Homo sapiens: one gene and its partners. The protein of the gene in region 1 interacts with the protein of each later gene in a biochemical or structural test. Each region holds a gene or a part of one and is shown on either strand. Other genes may lie near its edges.

Evidence for each region.
Region 2: the proteins of ARHGAP5 (region 1) and RND2 form a complex in vitro, tested with the Homo sapiens proteins (one study listed by BioGRID).
Region 3: the proteins of ARHGAP5 (region 1) and RND1 form a complex in vitro, tested with the Homo sapiens proteins (one study listed by BioGRID).
Region 4: the proteins of ARHGAP5 (region 1) and RND3 form a complex in vitro, tested with the Homo sapiens proteins (one study listed by BioGRID).

What each region holds. Positions count from the first base shown.
Region 1 is NC_000014.9:32,157,288-32,160,257, reverse strand, and holds the end of ARHGAP5 (rho GTPase-activating protein 5), read right to left. Parts: 3' UTR 530-2,970; downstream 1-529. UniProt on the Homo sapiens protein: GTPase-activating protein for Rho family members.
Region 2 is NC_000017.11:43,028,186-43,032,541, reverse strand, and holds the end of RND2 (rho-related GTP-binding protein RhoN), read right to left. Parts: coding exon 4,347-4,356; intron 4,111-4,346; coding exon 3,862-4,110; 3' UTR 3,453-3,861; coding exon of another isoform or gene 3,428-3,452; 3' UTR 501-3,427; downstream 1-500.
Region 3 is NC_000012.12:48,862,850-48,870,451, forward strand, and holds the start of RND1 (rho-related GTP-binding protein Rho6 precursor), read right to left. Parts: upstream 3,022-7,602; 5' UTR 2,919-3,021; coding exon 2,799-2,918; intron 2,022-2,798; coding exon 1,934-2,021; intron 1-1,933. UniProt on the Homo sapiens protein: Lacks intrinsic GTPase activity. Has a low affinity for GDP, and constitutively binds GTP. Controls rearrangements of the actin cytoskeleton. Induces the Rac-dependent neuritic process formation in part by disruption of the cortical actin filaments.
Region 4 is NC_000002.12:150,470,632-150,477,676, forward strand, and holds part of RND3 (rho-related GTP-binding protein RhoE precursor), read right to left. Parts: intron 4,354-7,045; coding exon 4,244-4,353; intron 1,131-4,243; coding exon 996-1,130; intron 1-995. UniProt on the Homo sapiens protein: Binds GTP but lacks intrinsic GTPase activity and is resistant to Rho-specific GTPase-activating proteins.

The DNA of each region.
Region 1 (2,970 bases):
CCCAGGCTGGAATGCAGTGGCTTGATTGTGGTTCACTGCAACCTCCGCCCCCCCAAGGTTCAAGCAATTCTCATGCCTCAGCCTCCTGAGTAGCTGGGGCTACAGGCGCCTACTACCATGCCAGGCTAACTTTCGTATTTTTAGTAGATGTGGTTTTGCCATATTGGCAGACTGGTCTCGAACTCCTGACCTCAAGTGATGTCCCTGCCTCAGCCTCCCAAAGTGCTGGGATTACAGGCATGAGCCATCATGCCTGGCTTTAGTTTATATTTTAAAAGTACATTGCTGGTAATGTTTCTCACTTCAAATATTACAGACCAAAAGACATTCAGCAGCTATGCCTGTGACTGCCAACAAATGAAAAATCTCTAAGTCAAATTTCCAAGAAGGATATCTAAAGACTGTATTCTCTCAGATAGGTATTTTTTATCCTTTCACCTACATTTATAAACAATCCCAAATAATAACAGTATGATAGTGTGTACAGCTTCTGATTTTACTTATTTTACGGAATTAAACAGAAGTCTACTTCTTAGAACACCTAAATATTTATTTGGATAAAATAAAATAACAAGAATCTGGAGAAAAGAAACTAAGAGCCCCAAAGTTAAAGCTGGTAAAATAGTTCAAGAACTTGCAGCAAGTACCTAGAAAATATTAAATGGTTAGGACAAAACATTCACAGTTCAAGGTCCCAAGAAAATGATCTGGTGAGCAAATACATATACACACTTAAAACTAATCTGGATGAATTAGTGAAGCAATGAATAAATAGGTCAATTACTAAACCCACATAACTTATTCAAATAAAATCTAATACAAAAAATAAACTTAAAAAAATAGGTTAAAACACTAAATCTTAACTAAAATATTAGGCAAACTAGAACAGGAGGGCCGTTATTAAATTGTTCACAATAACTTACTATTTGAGACAAAACTGAATAGAAAATCTGAATTGTGAGAATAAACAAGTTGTTTCTCAACTACAATTATTTGACAGCTACTCAAAAAGTGCATATACTGCAGGTCTTAATACTACTAACTACTGGTAAAAATGACTAAACCAGAACTGCCAGCACCAAATTAATTTCAAGGGTTATAATTTTATGCATTTAGTATTAACTAAAATGCTAATTATCATTGGTTAGCTTTTCAAAATCATACTGCCTACAGAATTTCCACAAAAGACTAATTTCACACAATTTAATTAAGATGTGAATATGAGATTCTGTGACTCTTCCCACTCCTCTCCCCCTGACAAAGAAAACTCATATAGTGGAGGAAAAAATGGAGTCATGCAAATAGGACAATGATGAGGATCAATTGAATAGTGAAGACTCCCAAAGTTAATTAATTAGATTTTAACTGCTTCAAAAAGACCAGGGTACTTGGATCACATCAAGTAACTGGATGTTGGAATATGAGATTAATGCTTGTACAATCCTCTCATTGTATGTAAAGATGCTATCCTAAGAAAATGATTTGAATAGTATCTTCCCTTATTAAATCTTAGAAAATTTTACTTTCAGGTATTTCATAACCTGAAAAGGCTAAGAACTTCCAAGAGTTCTAATACAGTAAAAAAATCAACCATGTCCCATATGTATTGAAACAAATTAGAAACTGTTAAGAATTTAAGTACCTTGAAACTACTAAATTCAAGATAACACAAAGATTCATGTTGAACAGACCTCACCAGATCCAGACTGACAACATATACCACAAAATTTGGCCTAATAGTCACAAACCATGAAGACACAAATATATTCGTTAATATTAGCAGCTCTGCTATAACTAGAATAGTTTTCAAAATATTTCCAGTGGCTCTAAAGAATGTCTAGCCACAGCTCAAAAATCACATCCAGGTAAGATCTTAGTCTTAGAAATCTGTGCATTATCTTGTTTTCCTGATAATTTAAAAAATCAAATTTTCACCTATATACATCCCCAGAAAAAATTTTGAATCTCCTTTTCAGGTACAGTGAAAATTCAATAATACATCTCCTTAATAAGATTTCCATCATATTGATAAATTTATATTTTTATTTTTCATTTCACTTGAAAAAAATTAGCTAATTTTTACCAATGAAATGGTAAAAATAGAGGCAACTATAACTTAAAATTACACAGCTTCTTAATGTTTTATTCATAGCATTCTTTATACATCAGAAGCTTCACTGATATTTAATTTACTGCAGCATCCTGTAGGTGAAGCACAAAAATTACATTAAACAAAGAAACAAAAGCACTTTTGACTTTTTAAAATTATATGTGTATTTATATCCAGTTGACAAATAGCATCACAATTATTACTGTATAAAAAACTAAAAATCACCATGGAAGCTAAGGCCTAAATTCTCATTCCAATTGTTCCCTTTTGTTGATACCTAAGAGATATTAATTAGATTCCAGTACCTCAAAAAAAAAAACAAACCCAAATAAACAAAAAAACCCAGGTCTACATTATTTACATACAGTATGGGAAAAAAAGCTGCTTTTTGGCTAACTTAGATTGCGGTTACCTGCAGTATTTACACTGTAAATGTTAAGGGGAAGAAGCACTACTAACAAATACCATTTAAAAAAAATATATTGTGCCTGGAATTTTATTCTTAAATTAGTTGTATATCCTAATAAGTGTCTGTTGAATAGAATTTGACTTCTAATAAATCTACTGAAAGTGTGAAACAGAGTACCACTATGCTTCTTTATATTGCTAATCTAGATCCTGTTAGGTCCAATATTGTAGTTAACTATAAGCACTGAACCTTAAATGAAACAATGGCAACATGTGTGTAGATGAAATTTTATTCAGTATTGTAAAATATAATGCCTTGATGTTTACTCACAATTATGAGACTATCCTATTCTTTTAATCCTTTAAGAAGTCTCATATGATAGGTCCCTAAACAGTGAAACCTTCCAGTAACTTACCAGAAAAAAGTTTAATTATGTTATTCTGTTCTTAGA
Region 2 (4,356 bases), on another chromosome or scaffold:
GCTGGGCACGGTGGCTCATGCCTGTAATCCCAGCACTTTGGGAGGCCGAGGTGGGTGGATCACGTTAGGTCGGGAGTTCAAGACTAGCCTGACCAACATGGAGAAACCCCATCTCTACTAAAAATACAAAATTAGCTGGGCATGGTGGCACATGGCTGTAATCCCAGCTACTTCAGGAAGCTGAGGCAGGAGAATCACTTGAACCCAGGAGGTGAGGTTGCCGTGAGCCGAGATCGCGCCAGTGCACTCCAGCCTGGGCAATAAGAGTGAAACTCCGTCTCAAAAAAAAAAAAAACACTAAAATTAGCTGTGCATGGTGGCGCGCGCCTGTAGTCCCAGCTACTCAGGAGACTGAGGCAGGAGAATCGCTTGAACCCAGGAGGCAGAGGTTGCAGTGAGCCGAGATGGTGCCACTGCACTCCAGCCTGAATGACAGAGTGAAACTCCGTCTCAAAAAAAAAAAAAAAAAAAAAAAAAAAACACAGAAACTCTGGCAGCCATCACAGTGTGATTATTTGTTTATTTCATTAAATGTTTAACGAGGCTACATTGTTTCCCAAACCAATGTCTAATTTGTGAAGGAAACAGCGCAGAGAAGGAAGCTGGGTGACTCCTGCATCTGGGGTGGGGAAGGGAGTAAGGTCCCCTCCCTCCATCCTACAGAGGCCTTTGAGGATCAGCAACAGTCCCATTCCCTCCTCCCACCCACTGAGCTCCTCAGCCCAGAGCCCTCCTCCCCAGAAATAAAACGTCTGGCAACCCAGACCTGCAGAAAGGGACCAAAAATCCATTCCTGGTGGTATTGAAAATGTATTAAACTTTGGGGGGTCCTCCAGCTGATTGATTTTTCTAATTATGTTTGCTTTAGATGGATATTTAAATGCATTTGCATTCCCTGAGCTCACATGGCAGGATATGGAGGTTGGAGGAAAGAGGGGGCACAAACACTCCACACTCTGCACTTTGGTGGTTGCAGGCTTGAACCTGCTATACACTGAGAAGTCCAAAGTGGAAAAGAGAAGCCACTCAGCTAAAAATCGCAAGTCGATTTTTATGGCAGGTCCTTGTGGGGAAAGGGTCAGTCCTCAGAGACAGATGGAGATCCACCTAGCTGGGCCTGGAGCCCCTGCCCTCTCCTGTACCCTTAGCCGAGGACTCAGGGTCTTTGAGTCAGTCCCTAACCAGGTCTCAGTTTGAGGGGGTGGTTATCCAAGCACACTTAGATAATTTCAAATGCCATTGAAGTTATCCTAGAATCTTTGAGACTGGCTGAGATGAACTAGTCCCATAGGAGAGGTTGGGATAGGGATATCTGATGATCCAGGGAGTGGTGGGTAGGGATTCCTTTCCTCTCAAGACTGGAACCTGGCATAAGGGAAAGGAGAAGCTATTTTTTATTTTTTATTTTTTAATTTTTTTTAGAGACAGGGTCTCACTCTGACACTCAGGCTGGAAGACAATGGCATGATCATAGCTCACTGCAGTCTCTAACTCCTGGCCTCAAGCGATCCTCCCAGCTTGGCCTCCCAAAGGAGGAATCTTGGCTGGGATTATAGGTGTGAGCCACTGCCGAGAAGCTATTATTTTAAATGACACACCTCAGAGCCAAATCTCCCAGCTCCAACACCACATCCAGATAACCATCTATCCAAAAAACAACTCTGATCACTTCACTCTCTGCCTGAAATTCCTGGTGGCTTCATCCTCTGAGGATGATTTCATTCATCCTCAGAATGAAATTCTGATTCCTCTGTGGACCCTGCAGTAGCCTCAGTGTACCTTCCTAGCCTTGTCTTCTATTCTCCCTGCCATGGGAGCCCCAACAGTGCTATGCTCATTCTCATCTCCACGTGTTTACACATGCTGTACCCTCTGCCCAGAGTGCCTTTCCTACCCCTTCCCTGCCCGGAAAACTCCTCTTCAACCCTCAGGACCTGGCTCACAGGACTGGCTTCTCAGGCTGCAAGGAGCTCCCATAGCATCCCATACATGTACAAATATCCCTCAGCCATGGCACCCTCACACCTGAGGTACCTCTCTTCCACACTGGGCTGGCCTCCAAAAGCTTAGAGACTGGTCCTTGCAATCTCCCAAGCCAGTGTATGCCACACAGTTGGTGTTCAGTACATACTTGCTGAATGAATGAATGAGGGAGGAATGGGCTATAAATTTGGGTGGGATCCCAGCAGATAGTTGGGTAAGGTCAGTGTTCTCTTCCAGTGTGTCTGGGAGAACTGGCTAGGGCTGGGGGAGGGAAGGGCCAGGGATGGTTCCTGGGGGAGAATGTCACCGAAAAGAGGCCAGTGGGACCAGAGCCAGGAAGGGAATACAGGACAATCTGAAACCAGACTCCCGAGAAAACAGACCAGTACTGTCTTTCCTGACAACAGGCGCTCAGCCGTCCTCTCCACCGTCTTTCCTTTAAGGGACAGGGTAGGGGTGACTCTAACAGCTGATGCTCCCCTGAAAGCCATCATGAAACTCAGCATGGGAGGAGAGAAAGGTCCCTGGCCTGAGCCTCTAAGGAGACCCCAGAATCAAACTACTGACCTCTTAGGAAACTTCACGCTGTACAGGGGTAGCTTCTGTGATGTGGAGGCTTTTGATGCCTTCTTTTTTTTTTTTTTTTTTTTTTTTGGAGACAGAGTCTTGCTCTGTCATCCAGGCTAGAATGCAGTGGCGCAATCTCGGCTCACTGCAAGCTCCGCCTCCCAGGTTCACCCGGGTTCACACCATTCTCCTGCCTCAGCCTCCCGAGCAGCTGGGACTACAGGCACTGCCACCGCGCCTGGCTAATTTTTTGTATTTTTAGTAGAGATGGGGTTTCACCGTGTTAGCCAGGATGGTCTCGATCTCCTGAACTTGTGATCCGCCCACCTCGGCCTCCCAAAGTGCTGGGATTACAGGCGTGAGCCAGCGCGCCCGGCCTGATGCCTCCTTATCCCCACAACCCCCAGGGTACCAGCAGGCTCCAAGCCAGGGGTACAGATGGTGAGCAGGACCCCTCCCACACTAGCAGCAGGCCTGGCTGGGCTGAGAAATGCTGACTAATTATATGTCGGTCTGCTCTAAAACCCCCTAATGGCCTGAGAATTGCCCACTTCATTAACTAGGATGAACAGTCCCAGGATGTCTCCTTCTCCCAACTCTGACTCCTAAAAGGACACTTCTGATCCAACCTATGGCTTTGTCCTCTGCTCTATCTGTGGACATGGACAGGAAAGTTCCCCAGCTGAGGTCTAACTTTCCCTCTTACTGCTAAAGATTGGTAGATTGATTTTTTTAAAAAGCAACAAAACTAAAGCCACAGCCGTTTTCCATGGAGGTGGGCTTTATTAGGTGACTGTTGAGGCAAGGGAGGTTCTAGGGCTGGTGGACTGATGGGGGGCAAGGGCTTCTCCTTGCTTTTGAATTTAGTGCATGTTGCCTAGAGGTTAGATGTGTGAGAATAGCTGCAGAAGTGAGAGGAGAGGAAAAGAGAAGGTCATAGAATGGACATTTTCCTTGGGCCAGAACCAGGATATGGGGACTGGGGGTGGAGAGGGAGGGTACTCTTCACATAGGAGACTCCACCAAGGTCACCATTTGATACCAGCTTCCCTAACGCCCACCTGCCCCATCCCAGTTCATGCCCCAGATGCCAGCCCTGTTAGCTCCCTCAACATCCACTGGAGAAGAGGAGGGAGGAGGAGATGAGAAACGATGATACCCTTCTGCCCTCCAGCTCCCCTGCCCAGAATTGCTCGCTCTGCCTGCCCTAACTTCCCAGCCAGGATCAGGAGGTCAGGAAGCCTGGGCGCAGGCAGGGGAACAATTGTGTCCCTCACCACCCCTCTTCACACTCTGCCCTCTCCTAGCCCCTCACATGAGGTTGCAGCTTTTGGCTCGATCCTTGTGTATCTCGCCCTCATTCCCCCGGTCTGGCCGTCCTGACAGCTGAGCGGATCGCTGCATTCCCCGGCGTGAGTCAGTTCGGCGCAGCTGCCTATGGCCACGGCCAAGGGAGGCCACTGTAGCCACATGGAAGACATCCCTGACGCTGCGCTCAGAGGACCGGGAGGAGCACTCAACATAGGACACAGCCCCCACCTGCTTGGCCAGCACAGTGCCCTGGAAAAGGAAGGAGTGCATGGGAGAAAGTTATAGGTCTTAGCCTGCAGCTTAGAAAGGGGCATGGAGGCTGTGGGCTGGGGTTGAATGTCAAGGCTGGGGGCAGTCAAGGGATCAGGTCAGAGGTCACAGACCAGAACAAAGGATGAGCCAGGTAAGGTGTTTTCAAATCAGAGACTGAAGGGGCAGAGGTGACAGGTCTAGGCTGGGATGAGGTCAGACGTCAAGGGTCCCACCTGCTCATGT
Region 3 (7,602 bases), on another chromosome or scaffold:
CCCTCCACCCTGGGGAAGGAGCAGTAGCGGATTTGGAACCCAGACAATCCGTGCTCAGAATAGCAAGCAGCCCCTCTCCCTGCACCACAATCGCCATGGAAACTGGGGGGAATCCAAGCTGGTGGGGGGATGTTGGTCATTAAAAAAAGGAATACAGGGGAGTTGGGATAGCTGCCTGCTCCTTCAGCAAGCCTCCTCCATCCCTTTCTGAGGTGGGGTCTTACCACTGCAGCACTGAGGAGCGGAAGCACTGCAGCACTGGGGAAGGGGGAGGGGAGGAGGCCTCCATTTTGGCTCCAAGCAATCCCCCTCCCCTAAGACTAGCAAGTAAATAATGGGAACAGGGTCAACCCTGAGCCCAACATTGGGAAACCCTATCCCACACACCATGGCCACTTCCTCCTTCCTTATGGGAACCTAATCTGAAAGAGGGAGTTTGAGAATAACTGACAGCCTTTATCCTTTCGGAAATTGGGGGTGGGGGTGTGACACAGGGAACAGAGACTACACTTGCTGATTTTCCATGATCTGGTTTGGGATTTGAGGGCTGCATTCTGACTGTCAAAGGAGGGAGGAGGTGGGGGGAGGGCGTTTGGGCGGTGGTAGTGAAAAGAGATGAGCTGCAGTAAGATTCTGGGAAGATTGGAAGGTGGGAGGGTACAGCAGATGAAAAACCAAAAATTATACATCATGCCATCAAGCTGCATTCTAGCCCAATCTTGCCAGCATAGCACAGCCCAGGAGAACCAGAACGCTGCCTCCCAAGCCCTGAAACTGCAACAGGGAAAAGCATACCAGATTGGGGAATTTTTGTTTGGGGAGGAAAGGCTCATTGTCTGTCTAACCATTCCCTAGCCCCAATCTTTTCAGACCTCAGAATTAGAGCATGGGAACAACAGCTGTTGAAGGAGCAGGACAGCATATTTATTATATGTAGCAGGAAACACCTAGTGATTTACGGTCCCTTTTTAAACTCAGCCTGAATATGCATTTTTGGGGAGGGGTGGATTTTATTTTCTTTCTCTTATTCCCGGCTTTTACTCCTTAATTATGACTCTGAGCCAGTCTATTGAAAAAGGTCTGGGGTAAAGAGATAATGGGAAGGGGTCAGAATCAAGGCAAAGGATAGCCTAGCACTAAGGGCTTGGGGCTGAGAGGCTGGAAAAACATTGTTTCTACATTCTAGAGAGACAGGGCATATTCTACCTCACCCCAGTAGAGGGAAAACAGTCAGAGCCAACCTCCCCTCTGCCCTGCCGGCCACTATTCACAACTGACTATGCCCTATATTAAGCCATCTCCCCCAACTTCCAAAACATCGATGATGCATTGCTTCATCCCCGAGCTGCAGCGGTGTGACGAGTGGGGCTGAGCTGCGGCAGGAGGACAGCAGTGGCCCAAGATGGAATGCAGGAGACAAAACTGAGTCTGAGCAACCTTTCCCCAAAGCAGACTTGTCTCTCCGCCCCAACCACGCTGCCTCCAGCAGCACTGCCTCTTGCCTCTTATTTGGCTTTGCTCTGGGGAAGTAAAAGGTGTGTGTGTGTGTGTGTGTGTGTGTGTGTGTGCGCGCGCGCGCGTGTGTGTGCATGTGTGTACGCGTGCATGTTGGGTGGTAGGGAATGGAAATGGAGAAGTCCTGTTTTACTGCCCACCCCCAGGACTATTCATGGGTCCCTTCACCTCACCATCCCAGCCCTCTAAAGGGTGGAACCAGACCCAGGGAAGAGAGTGGCTCCTGGGGTTCACCCACTCTGCACCCTTGGACCATGCAACTGAGTCCACCAACTGTCAGCCCTCCCCACAACTAATGAGTCTTCAGATCCTCTTTTTTCACTTCTCCCCACCAAAGGGGAAAACAATTTCTAAAAGACAGCAGCTACACAGCAGACCAGTAGGGGTGGGAAAGGGGTATTTGGAGCAGAATTCTTACCTGAGGTATCCCAGAGACTAAGCTCCACCCTCTGTTCCTCTGTCTCCAAACAGGCTGTGTAATTTTCGAACACGGTGGGCACATAGGTCTGTGAAAAGAGAGGAAACATTCACCCCATGCACCCCTACCCTCAGATCCCCTGGTTAGTGCTGGCTACACACGCACTCACCAGAGAGACAGTAAAGTCACAGGAGACAAGAAACCAGAGGAGATGCCTGGGGCAGGAGGGAAGGGACTGTGGAGGACCAGGCACTTTGCTCTGCAGCAGTGAGAAATGTGAATGACACCCCCCCACACCACCACACCAGGGGTAAGCCCCCCATATCCTAGGCGATCAGGGACACACACACACACAGATTCCTCCCATCCCCAGATTTGTGTTTCCCAATTTGAGAGAGCCACAGGCCAAAGCCAATCCTAGCTCATCTCCTCTCAAACCCCTCCCGGCCAGGTGAACAGAGGGGCTGCAGAAGCCTGCCTGAAGGCACAGGCATAGAGCCTTTGAGGAGCAGGTGAGCGGATAGGCAGGGATTACGTCAAGAAGAAACCCCAGACTTTCAAATGCCTCCAGTGCCCTCACCTGAGAGCAGACTCCAGGGACGCAGGAAGGTGGAGGGGATCTGATGGGTCCTCTGGGTGAAGAGGTGAGGAGGAGCCAGCGGGGCGGCAGAAGTGGAACAGGTCTCAGGGGAAGCTAAGGCAGGGCAGTCCTCCAGCCAAAAAGCAGCTGAGGATGGTAAAGCCTCAGAAAGCGGCTGAGGATGGGCTGGGGCTGGGGGAGCCACGTCTCCTGAGCAGGTGGAAATCTACCCCAAGGCGGGCAGGCAGGGAGAAAAGCCGGCCAGCGGGCGGGCGGGCAGCTCACCTCTGGATAGCAATCCTTCGCTAACACTTGCAACATCGCGGTCTTCCCACACTGCACGTCCCCGACCAGAACGAGCTTACATCTGGCCACGACTGGCTGGGGGGCCCGTCTCTCCTTCATGGTTGCAGTGTCCGCGGGACTTGAACTTCGATTCAGAAGGGAGGGTTGCGCCAGGTGCGTCTCAGCACGCCAATCAAGCCAGATTCCCTGCCTCCCTCCAACTGAGGAGGAGGCCGGCACAGCCGCCTTTTATTTTTCTGGCTGAGCCAATCACAAGAGGAGGCGGACTCTGTTACGCCCAATCCCTGAGGTGGGATTCCCTCCAGCAGCCAATGGATCTGAGGATCTGAGTCAGCGCCCCCTTCCTCCCTTCTCTTTCTCTTAAAGCTGCACCGTTGTTTCCCCCTGAAAGGGGATTCCCAGGTTGTTTTGCATTTGTATTAGGAAGTGGAAAGGGTACTGGAAGCAAAATGAAATGATCTGGAGTGTCTACCAATAAGTGTCAGAAAAACAAACTAGCTATGGAAGCAGGAAGTGAGGTCAGGCTGGAGTTGCAGGGACTGTCCCGGGTGGGTTACAAAAGCAGGACCTGCTTAGACTATAGACAGGTGTGTGTGTGTGTGTGTGTTTTGGAGGAGTAGGGGATGGGGGAGGTGGCCCAGAACTTCTCTGACATTTTTTTTCTTTTTTTTCCTTACATCTTTTGTTTTAAATAGAGACAGGGGTCTCACCATGTTATCCAGGCTGGTCTTGAACTTCTGGGCTCAAGCAATCCGCCTGTCTCAGCCTCCCAAAGTGCTGGGACTACAGACATGAGCCACAGCGCCTGGCCTGATGTCTGACTTTTTTGTTTTTTCTAATTCCCATCCAAACCAGTTCTTACTTCCCTTTATTTCCCCTCCCAATATCAGCTCCTGCTGTACCTCTTTTATTTATTTATTTATTTATTTATTTATTTATTTATTTATTTATTTATTTATTTTGAGATGGAGTTTCGCTCTTGTTGCCCAGGCTGGAGTGCAATGGCACGATCTCAGCTCACTGCAACCTCCATCTCCCGGATTCAAGCGATTCTCCTGCCTCAGCCTCCCGAGTAGCTGGGATTACAGGCATGCACCACCATGCCCAGCTAATGTTGTATTTTTAGTAGAGACGGGGTTTCTCCATGTTGGTCAGGCTGGTCTCGAACTCCCGACCTCAGGCGATCCGCCCGCCTTGGCCTCCCAAAGTGCTGGGATTATAGGCGTCAGCCACCGTGCCCGGCCTGTGCCCCTTTTAAAGCCTTCTCTTCTTCAAGAATCACCTTCACCACCAAAGACAGAGAGAGAGAAAGAGAAAGAGAAAACTTTCTAGAGTCATCCATAAAAAAAACACACAGCACCTGACCCAGTGATGGGCAGAGAGAAATGAGGGACTCTGGCAAGTGGGGGTGGGAGAGAGGAAGAAGACAAAGCAAACACAGTCACTGTTTGGCCAGACAGCCTCTCACCCATGCCTAGCAGAAGCTGCTTAGGGGTGTTTGTTCTGCGGCCTAGGCTCAGCTTCCTGGATGAATCAGGCACAGGTCCAGTTCCATGTTAACGCCCACTGAAACTGACGCACTAATGTGTGTCACCTGGTTAAAGTCCAGACTGGGCCCAGGATTTTGGGATTAGAAGCTGGAGGACAATCTAAGGTTGAGATGAACTACATAAATTTTTTTTTTTTTTTTTTTTGAGATGGAGTCTCGCTCTGTTACCCGGGCTGGAGTGCAGTGGCTTGATCTCAGTTCACTGCAACCTCTGCCTCCCGGGTTCAAGCAATTCTCCTGTCTCAGCCTCCCGAGTAGCTGAGACTACAGGCGCACGTCACCATGCCTGGCTAATTTTTGTATTTTCAGTAGAGACAGGGTTTCACCATATTGGTCAGGCTGGTCTCAAACTCCTGACCTTAAGTGATCCACCCACATCGGCCTCCCAAAGTGCTGGGATTACAGGCGTGAGCCACCGCGCCCAGCCGAGCTTCATAACTTCTTAACAGCCCTGACTGATGGGGCCCCTGTATTTTGGGGAGCCTCTACTAGACAGAACTATGGGCTGTCCACAGCTTAAATAAACCACTGATTGTCCAGGAATCAAGACCGTACAAATAAGGGCTCCTGGAGATTTGTGATTGAAGGAAGACCAACTTTGGGCAAAATTGAGAGTAGTCCCTTTCCCTTGTCAAGCCCAGTGTCTCCTGGGCCTTGTTTCATCTGAGCTTTACTTTTTTTTTTTTTTTATACAGAGTCTTGCTCTTTCACCCAGGCTGGAATGCAGTGCCACAATCTCGGCTCACTGCAAACTGTGCCCGCCGGGTTCAATCGATTCTCCTACCTCAGCCTCCCGAGTAGCTGGGATTACAGGTGCCTGCCACCACACCCAGCTAATTTTTGTATTTTGAGTAGAGATGGGGTTTCGCCATGTTGGCCAGGCTGGTCATAAACTCCTAACCTTAGGTGATCCACCTGCCTCGGCCTCCCAAAGTGCTGGGGTTACAGGCGTGAGCCACTGTGCCCCAGCCTGAGCTTTACTCTTAATTCACAGTTGTTGCTGCCCCACCCAGGGATAGTTTCCCTGTGATAAAGGATGCTTGAAAGCCTTTCACAGACCCAAAGGGACAGATCTCTAAGAATGAGATTTCTAGTGCCCACCACAGGCAGTAGGAGAGTGGATGTTGTTTTGAGAATACAGCCTAACCAGTGTTCCTCCAGTCAAACCTCGTCGTGGCTCTGGGGCCAAGGCCTATACCTGCTCTCCACCCATGTCCTAAGCTCCATTCACTTCCAGGGATGGGGAATGGCCTGAGGGAAACTTCAGGGTGGAAAGGCCAGATGTTACCATTAGCTGGCTGCCGTCTCTCCCAGGCTTTCTGAAGGTTTCTGCCCTTTATCTCCCCTCATCCTCCACCCTCAGATAATGTTCTGTGGATAGAATTTGTCCTCTTCTTGCCCTTTTCCAGCAGCCTGACAGCCTCTGTGAGCTGTCTATAAGTGGGGTTTGGGATAGTTCCAGGAACAGCTGTAAGATCATAGACTGCCTCAATCTGGAGTCCTTTCCCTCAGCCTGACCTTCTCCTTCTGTATCCTCCTGTCCCCTACCTTCAGTCTCATCTGGGCTTAGTTCTGGAAGCATCAGTAGAGTTCCTATGCATCCTCTTTTTTTTTTTTTTTTTTTCCGAGACAGAGTCTTGCTCTGTTGCTCAGGCTGGAGTGCAGTGGCACAATCTCCGCTGACTGCAACCTCCGTCTCCCGGGTTCAAGCGATTCTCCTGCCTCAGCCTCCTGAGTAGCTGGGATTACAGGCACGTGCCACGATGCCCAGCTAATTTTTGTATTCTTAGTAGAGACGACGTTTCCCCATGTTGGCCAGGCTGGTCTCAAATTCTTGACCTTGTGATCCGCCTGCCTCGGCCTCCCAAAGTGCTGGGATTACAGGCATGAGCCACCGTACCCAGTCCCCCATACATCCTCCTAACCCTTAACTGAGTTCCCTCCAATCACAACCCCACAGGTGTTAGCCTTCTCTCCATGTTCTCTACCAGCCTCCCCCTACACACACCATTCATCCACCACTCCAAATAAACTTTCAGAATAAGTAAAAATTGTTCCTGCTAAGCAAACAGCTTCTTCTGGCTTCTAAGAACATTGCCATTCCTGAGCTCCTCCAAGACAGAAATTCTGAGAGCTGGTGCCAACACTGATTCTTCCCTGGGTGGCTGCATTTCAGGGTCAAGTAGCAGAAGGCCCGAGCCATTATACAGAGCAGCCTCCACCATGGCTGAGGCCCAAGATGTGTCTCCAAGGATATTTTGTGGGTCATATGTTTATGAGTTTTGGTGGAAAGGGTGTTATGTGTGTGAAAGCGTGTGTGTTAGATCAGTGGGCAGGGAGGTAACAGGAAAAGGATGGAACTGAAGTTCAGCAGGTCTAGGCCTTGGACCTCGCTCTGCCTTTAACAAGCTGTGTGCCTTTGGGTAAGTTACTTCCCTCTCTGGGTGCCTATTTCCTTAAATGCAATGTGAGGGATTTAACTAGAGAAGAAGTTTTTAGATGTTATTTAGTTTATTTATTTATTTATTTTTTTGAGATAGAGTTTTGCTTTTGTTGCCCAGGCTGGAGTGCAATGGCACGATCTTGGCTCACCTCAACCTCGCCCTCCCGGGTTCAATCGATTCTCCTGTCTCGGCCTCCCAAGTAGCTGGGATTACAGGCATGTGCCATCACACCCAGCTAATTTTTGTATTTTTAGTAGAGACGGGGTTTCTCCATGTTGGTCAGGCTGGTCTGGAACTCGTGACCTCAGGTGATCCACCCACCTTGGCCTCCCAAAATGCTGGGATAACAGGCGTGAGCCAGCGTGGTTGGCCTAGATGTTATTATTATTATTATTATTTTAGCACTTAGATTCTCTCCTCCAAATTTGTTTAAACCTCTTTTAAATAACTTTATTTCAAACTCCATAGCCAAGACCAGGTGTTGTGGCTCACACCTATAATCCCAGGATTTGGGGAGGCTGAGGTGGGAGGATCACTTGAGCCCAGGAGTTCAAAACCAGCTTAGGCAATAGAGTGAGACCCCATCTCTACAAAAAAACTTTAAAAATCAAATAAAAGTCTGTAGCCAGATTAATACATTAAAGTGGCTCTTCCGGGCCAGGCGCAGTGGCTCACACCTATAATCCCAGCACTTTGGGAGGCCAAGGTGGGTGGATCATTTGAGGTCAGGAGTTCGAGACCAGCCTGGCCAACATGGTGAAACCTCATCTCTACTAAAAATACAAAAATT
Region 4 (7,045 bases), on another chromosome or scaffold:
TGGTTATTCAGGTTTTCCAGGGTCACAGCAAGCATGGAATGGCGCAGAGAAGCTTACTAGTGAAGTAAGTTAGCTGAAGGTCATGAACATAAACTCTGCATTTTCCACACAGCTCTGGCCGTGGCGATGTGGCCTTGAGAACCTGTTCCAGCGCCTCATGGTGCACTTCATTTCTCTTTTCTTGAGGGTAAATGGCATTCAAGACTAGTGACTAGGTTGTACCAAAAACAGGGGCAATGAATGAAATTTAAAATCGATTTTGAAATGTATGTGATTGTGTCTTACTTAGGGCCGAAATGCGTTGAGGAAAGGAATAATACTATTGTAACATCTGTTACTTTATGAAACACAACATATGTAATTTCTAAGTGTGAACCATACCACCAACGTACACAACAATAAGCATGTGCACATTAACCAAAACTACTTATTTAAAATACCAAATTTTTTGCTAATGAGAAATGGAAGACTAAGAAGACTGCGGTATTTAAAATGATGATTCTTAATAAAATTTTGGTATTTCAACATGAACTCTCTTTAGAATCTGGTTGTAGGTTTTATGAGAATGAGCTTTTGAAACTGATTCTCATTTCTAAATACTTGGGGGAAATGCTTACAGAAATGAAGACTCTCTGAAAGATGGTGTTATGGAGTGTTCCACTTTACTGGCAACAGCCTTATTATTGTACTGCCGACTGTAAAATCAGATTACCCCTCTTAAAGAGTATTACTGATTTTGACCACATTCTCTCTTAAACCTATTTAACTTTAAACCTACTGGGAGGTGCAGAAATATACAAGGTTAGCATATCAACTGTTTATGTACCCGAATATCATGTAATTACACTAATAAATGACAGCATTTTAAATTTCACAACTGACCACTGGGTGAGCCTTTAGAAAAGCAGCTACTTTTTATTTTATTTATTATGAGTGATAGTCCATTTCTTTCACTCTTTCTAAAATCCAGTTTTGCACATGGGCAACATACATACCTGGTCATAGGACACTGGCGTCTGCCTGTGATTGGAGAGCTCTACTAATGTACTAACATCTGTCCGCAGATCAGACTTGCAGCCGACCAAGAGCATTTTGGTATTTGGACAAAATTCCTGGATTTCACCTTTCCACTATGAAAGAAAAAAAAAAAAGATTAAAAATGAACAAAGTAACGGTATCCATATCATGAAAACCATTTCTCCACTGGCTGACATTAGAATGAAACTCAGAAAAGATGTTAAAAATGGAGTGTCCCTTGAGATGAAGAAGCAAACTTTGCATTTATCTCCTGAACAGATGTGAAGTTTTACTACTTTTTAAGCATTAGAGAATAATTATGTATATTATGATTGATTCTCCCTCTCTGTGACTCATCTGTTGCTACTGAAAGAGACTTGGTAGATGTTGTCCAAAGGTAGCTTCAATAATGTCTTAATTATTGGTGTGTCTCTTAAAGATAAATGTGTCTTAAGAATAATTATATATCCTAACAAGTGACCACATCCTTCGATGTGTGGATCTGATCCTCCTTCACTAGAAGGCTGGGGATAAGGCAGAGGCAACACTAGCACAAGTATGCATTCCCTGATCCCATCATGAAACACTGAAGCATGCCACCACGAGCTGAGGCTCTATTTTAAGTACCTGAGATAGTTAATAAAACAGAACATCCTGCCTTGAAGGAGTTTCTGTTCACATGGTTGCATCAACACAGACCATGACATTTGCAAAGGAACATCTCTTGGGTCATCGGGAAGGCAGCTGGTCCTGTAGCTCATATGCCTTCAAGTTAGTTTAAAACTATTTCAATCTATTCCAATTTGTCTAGTTGTTTCATGATCTAACAAGAATTATTAGAACCTTCAGCAATGCCTGGCTTGGAATTCCAACTGTCCTCTTTAAGAACAAGCAAGCAGCTTTTTGTGGCTTCATTTCCTCAAGCTTGAGCTCTGCAACAGCATGGGAGTCAAGAGTTCAGGGCGGTCACAGGAGATCTTTGGCCTTTGAGGGCAGGGCCTAGAGAGGCTGAGATGGGGAAGTGGCGCCTGACTCTTCCCACCCACATTCACAAATATGTAAGTGTTCTACTAAGTACTGTGGCAGTGACAATGATGACTAAGACATAGCTGTGTCTTCTGGAAGGAAATTCACAGAATACTGGGGGTGATGAAGTCATGTATTAAGTATAACACTAGATAAGAGGGACATCCTGCAAGAATAACTTAAAAGATCACTAGAGGAGACATCTCCAAATCTAGGGGTGTACTTTGGGTAACGAACTCTAGTGCAAACTACACCAGAGGATTCAAAGGAGTAATATACTTTCCATAAGAGCCCATTTTGTCCACTTATTCCTCCCTTCCTCCCTCCCTCCCTCCCTTCCTTCCTTCCTTCTTTCCTTCTTTCCTCCCTCCCTTCCTCTCTCCCTCTCTCCCTCACTCCTTTCAGAATTATGTAGGAACACCTACCACATGCTAGGTGGCACTGGCATTAGAAGTGGAAGGTGAACTGGAAAAAAAAAAAAAAGAAATCCTCCCTACTTCAAGTCATTCTAACCTCCTCTTTGATAGTGAAGGACTTAAAGGGTTCCATTAATCAAGACAAACCGCAGGGGTTATCATGAGCCTTAAACCTCACAGGAATGTAAAACATACTCATTAATATCTATAAGCCCAAAGTCACTATTCATTTGGTCTTAGAAGACAAAAGCAAAATAAAACAGGAGAAAGGCTTTTCATCATAAATTATGCATAGCCTGATACTACATCAAGTAAAATCTCTAGTAAATAAGCAACCCCTTTTATCTCCAGACAGAACTAGACATGTTGTTATGTTGCTCTTCAGCTGTGTAATGACTTTGGCCTCCCTCTGCATGTCTAGCAATTGTTTACAAGCATTAAAGACAGGAAAGGTGTATTCCTGCCTGGATTTGACAAGCATTAGCATTATTTGTGTTAGATATGTATTACTCAAAATTGAAAGGAGCTAAAAAGGAAAAAAGAGTCTTTGATCTATTAAGAAAGAGATCTACTAAGAGTTTTATTGAACTCTGTTTGTAATATTTAGTAGAGACAGAAGGATTATTATACTTCAAATCCTGATTTCACAATGACACACAAGCCAAGCAATCAAATATAATAGGGGAATGTAAACTAATAAAAACACACAAAATACAAATAAATTCCACTAAAAATTAAAATGAAAAAAACAAAACCAACCTAGCCACACCTGCATGTTTGTCTTTCTCAATCCATACCATACTCAGACTGGGCTGCATGGGTCACCCCTCAGTTGACACTGCCTTGCTCTCAGCCACATCCGGTGTTGAAGCCAGTGTGTGGAGGAGAGGGAGTGCTCCAACAAGGATCTGATTCTGAAACCCCACAGCACACAGGCCAGGGCTGAGAAAATAGCTAGTGGCTAATAAATGCTGATCCATGGACTAACACGGCATGTGCCTTCTACAACTACCTGGAGGCTGAGTCTCAACTGCTGAAGGTCAAGAAACGCCCCTTCCTCCCACTGGCCTCCCTAGTTCCTGTGACCCATCCTGTAATAGGTCCTCTTCCTCTTGATCTCCCCCTGGTTCCTTCCAACCATAGCTTCCTTAGTTAGGTTCCTACGGAACCTGACTTACCTTTGCCTCCATAAACTATGTGTACATTATAATATATAACATGTTTACAAGCACTGCTTCCATATTACTAGAAAGATACCTGGTCATAATTACTAGACAGATACCTGATCATCAGACAATTCACATTGGACACATCCCTATTCCTCCTACACTAGTTCCATTTCTGTTTCTAATAACACCATAACTAAAACACAGCTTCTTTGTTAAAATAGCCATTATTGCATTCCTTTCACTATCTGACTTGAGGTCAAATGTAAATCTGTAAACTAAGATGCAATCTGTTGAGTCACTGAAAGAAGGAAGGAACACATGAATATGATAGTAATCAAATATAACTGTTGTTAGCTGTACCATTTTTCTCCCAAAGGACAAACATGAAGGCCCTTAAAAGGTATTTTGTTTCAGAGCTTCATGAAATAAAATTTCAAGCAAGTTCATCATCAAAAAGTGGAAACCCCATTTTGGTGTGAAAGGGTTCTTTCTAGTGTTTAATTACAAATTGTAAGGCAGGGAATTGATTAGAGTCTTTGAGCTTCCCAACAAACCCCACGTTTCTATTTATACATCACCCAGTACTGAAGTGTGTCATCATTTCCCAGCACTTGCCTTTTTGAGGACACTGTCCAGGGTCTCTGGTCTACTGATGTCAAAGCAAATCAGCACAGCATCCGAATCAGGGTAAGAGAGGGGGCGGACATTGTCATAGTAAGGAGAACCTGAGAAGAAACAAAGACACACAAATTTTCAGATGAGAGTCCCCTTGTCTGTCATGCATTAACTCTACCCTTTCCGGCTAAGTCCTTTGACTGTCACATCACGACCCAACTCCCACTTCCCCTAATTCTTGGAAAAGAATTCAAACAGACACACAAAAGCCTGCTTAGAAATATATGATGAATGAAGCCTCACATGTGTCTGACATAAATTCAAGAAGAGGGCCAGGATCTTAAGTGAAATCTGTATGGTTCAAAGACTAGGGCCTGAAGTTACCTGGGTGAAGTAGGGAAGCACCTGGGGCCAGGTGGTCTTGTGTGTAAACCTGCCTCCACCACTAAAAAGGGAGGGGGCAAGGTAGCTTTAGGACCCTGTGCCTCTGATTCTTCACTCATAAAATGAAGATGCTGACAACATACATACCTGAGATTAAGTAAACCCAGGCAGGGCCTGGCTTTTAGTAAGGGATCAATACGTATTAACTATGGGCATTATGGTTGTATTACTGCTGTTAAAAGCTGAGTGGTAGCAAGAACCATAAACTGAACTACTTCTTGGGAAAGAGACCAAAACTCAAGATCAATTCTGACAGCAGGATAGGGGTGAATGAGGGAGAGAGGAAGAGGAAGGGTTCAACTATGCAAAGAGAAACCACATCAGTGTTACCCATCTCCAAGATGTAAGTTTACATAGGCCATTGACCTTTGAGCTTGCTTATTTTAACTTATCGCCAAACCCTATATAGATTTTCTTCCTGTTACAATCAAGAATGTAATAAATGTCGTATAGGATCATGTCGCTTTTTTACAGAGTCCCATCTCTGAGAGTGACACTGAGGCATGATCTAAGGATCTTAACCTGAATTAAGTCCAGGGTACCCTAAAGGTTCAAGGCACCAGCCAATTAATTTAACCACAGAACTCTCTAGTCAATCAAGGAAGTTTCTTCTATTTCTTTAAGAATTCCAAAGGATGGGCAATTACATGAGGCCTATAGTTATGAAATGATTGACTAGAAAACTAAATACAGCCTGCCAAATGCCGCTTGTTTAAGAAATCATTTTCCGTATGCTGACATTTCACAAGCATCACATGAAAATGATTTTACTAGGCAAATATATACACACGTATGTATCTGACTCCAGAGTAGAAAAAGAAAATCTAAACCACCAAACTCTTTTTAAAAGTCTATTTCATTTTGACATCACTTTCCATTTTGAGCAGAAAAACAGGACATGTTGTCCCTTGATAAATCAAAACCTCAATAGGCAAAGTCAGGAAGAGAGACTTAAAAAGCAGCTTTAGAAAAAATGTCACTGTTTATATTTCTATCAAAACAACATTTGCTTGGAGGCTGTTCTTGTGATCTAAAAGGCACTATAGTCAGGGGGCATCGCCCTCTATTCACACAGTACACTCTGGGTCCCTGGCATCTGCTATGGAACCCCAGGCAACAGTGCAGCTTTTTCTCTAGCTCCTTTACGATGGAGAGTGACAACTTCAAGCCACGTGTGTCTGCTAAGCAAGGAAGAAAAGAATGTTACAAGAATCAGGAAGAAAAGTGTGAATAAATAGAGAATTAAGTCAGAGCTGTTCATGAGCTGCAGCAGCTGCCTACCCACATCTGGAACCAGGACCCTGGTAGAGCAGAGGCTGACAGCTGAAAGATATTTCCCAGAAGCTTAAAGCGTTTAGAGTTTAAAAAGTCAAGTCATTTTAAGTATGAAGGTATATTAGAATGAGGCCGTCTCTGAAAATGACAAGCTGTGGCTGCCTTTTCAGTCGCTGAAAGTACTCTGAGGTGAAGAGAATAATTCACAAATAGTTCACCCATTTGAACATTCGAAAGGCATCAGAAACGAGATGGTTGAACACTATTTATGGCTACATTAGTATTTCCATATTAGTTCTAAGAAGTTCACACTTTCTCAACTAGAACCTTTCCTGTTTCTGTGTCCAAAGTCTAACTCTAGCACGGCACCTGCTGTAAACATTTGAATGACTCTTTCCAAACAGGCAGTCAGAAAATTCTAGATCATAGAGTGGAGCTCCAAATACTGGACATATAAATGAGAGTTTCCTCTACTCCTCAAAGTCCGCGAGAGACAACCTGATCCCAGACCCAGGAAGGCAAAGCTGCCAACAGTTAGGATTGTCAGAAACCTAACGAGGCTTCAGAGATCTCCTTTCCCAGAAATCACTCACATTAGGAAAAACCACTCTCTCCCTGTGGAGAGCTTCCAGTACAAGCAGACCTGGTATCTTTAGAGAACTGTTCCAGGTGCCTACCAGCTCCTTTCAGGATACGATTTGTATGATGTTAGAGTACTCACTGCTAATTCCAGATGTAATACTGCTCTATGACAATGGAGACCATCTTTTCCAAATAAAAAAATTAGGAAAAGCGATTGAAGAAATACAAAGAGGATAAAAGAGTTTAATTAAAATTGAGACTGCCAGGAAAATCCTGAGGAATGGTTTCAACATTCAGGCCACCACATGACTGCTGGGAATACCCCTCCCCCCTTTGTGGACTATGTTTCCCGTCCCCCACCCATTTTATGGCCACAAAGGAGATCTGGCTTTGTGCTCAGCCCTGAGTCACCTGCTGGAGACTGCTACCTACTAAAATCAAGTGGGCTGGCTTCTGTGCTTAGTGCATATATCTAAATATCTGCAAAATTTAGACTCTGGC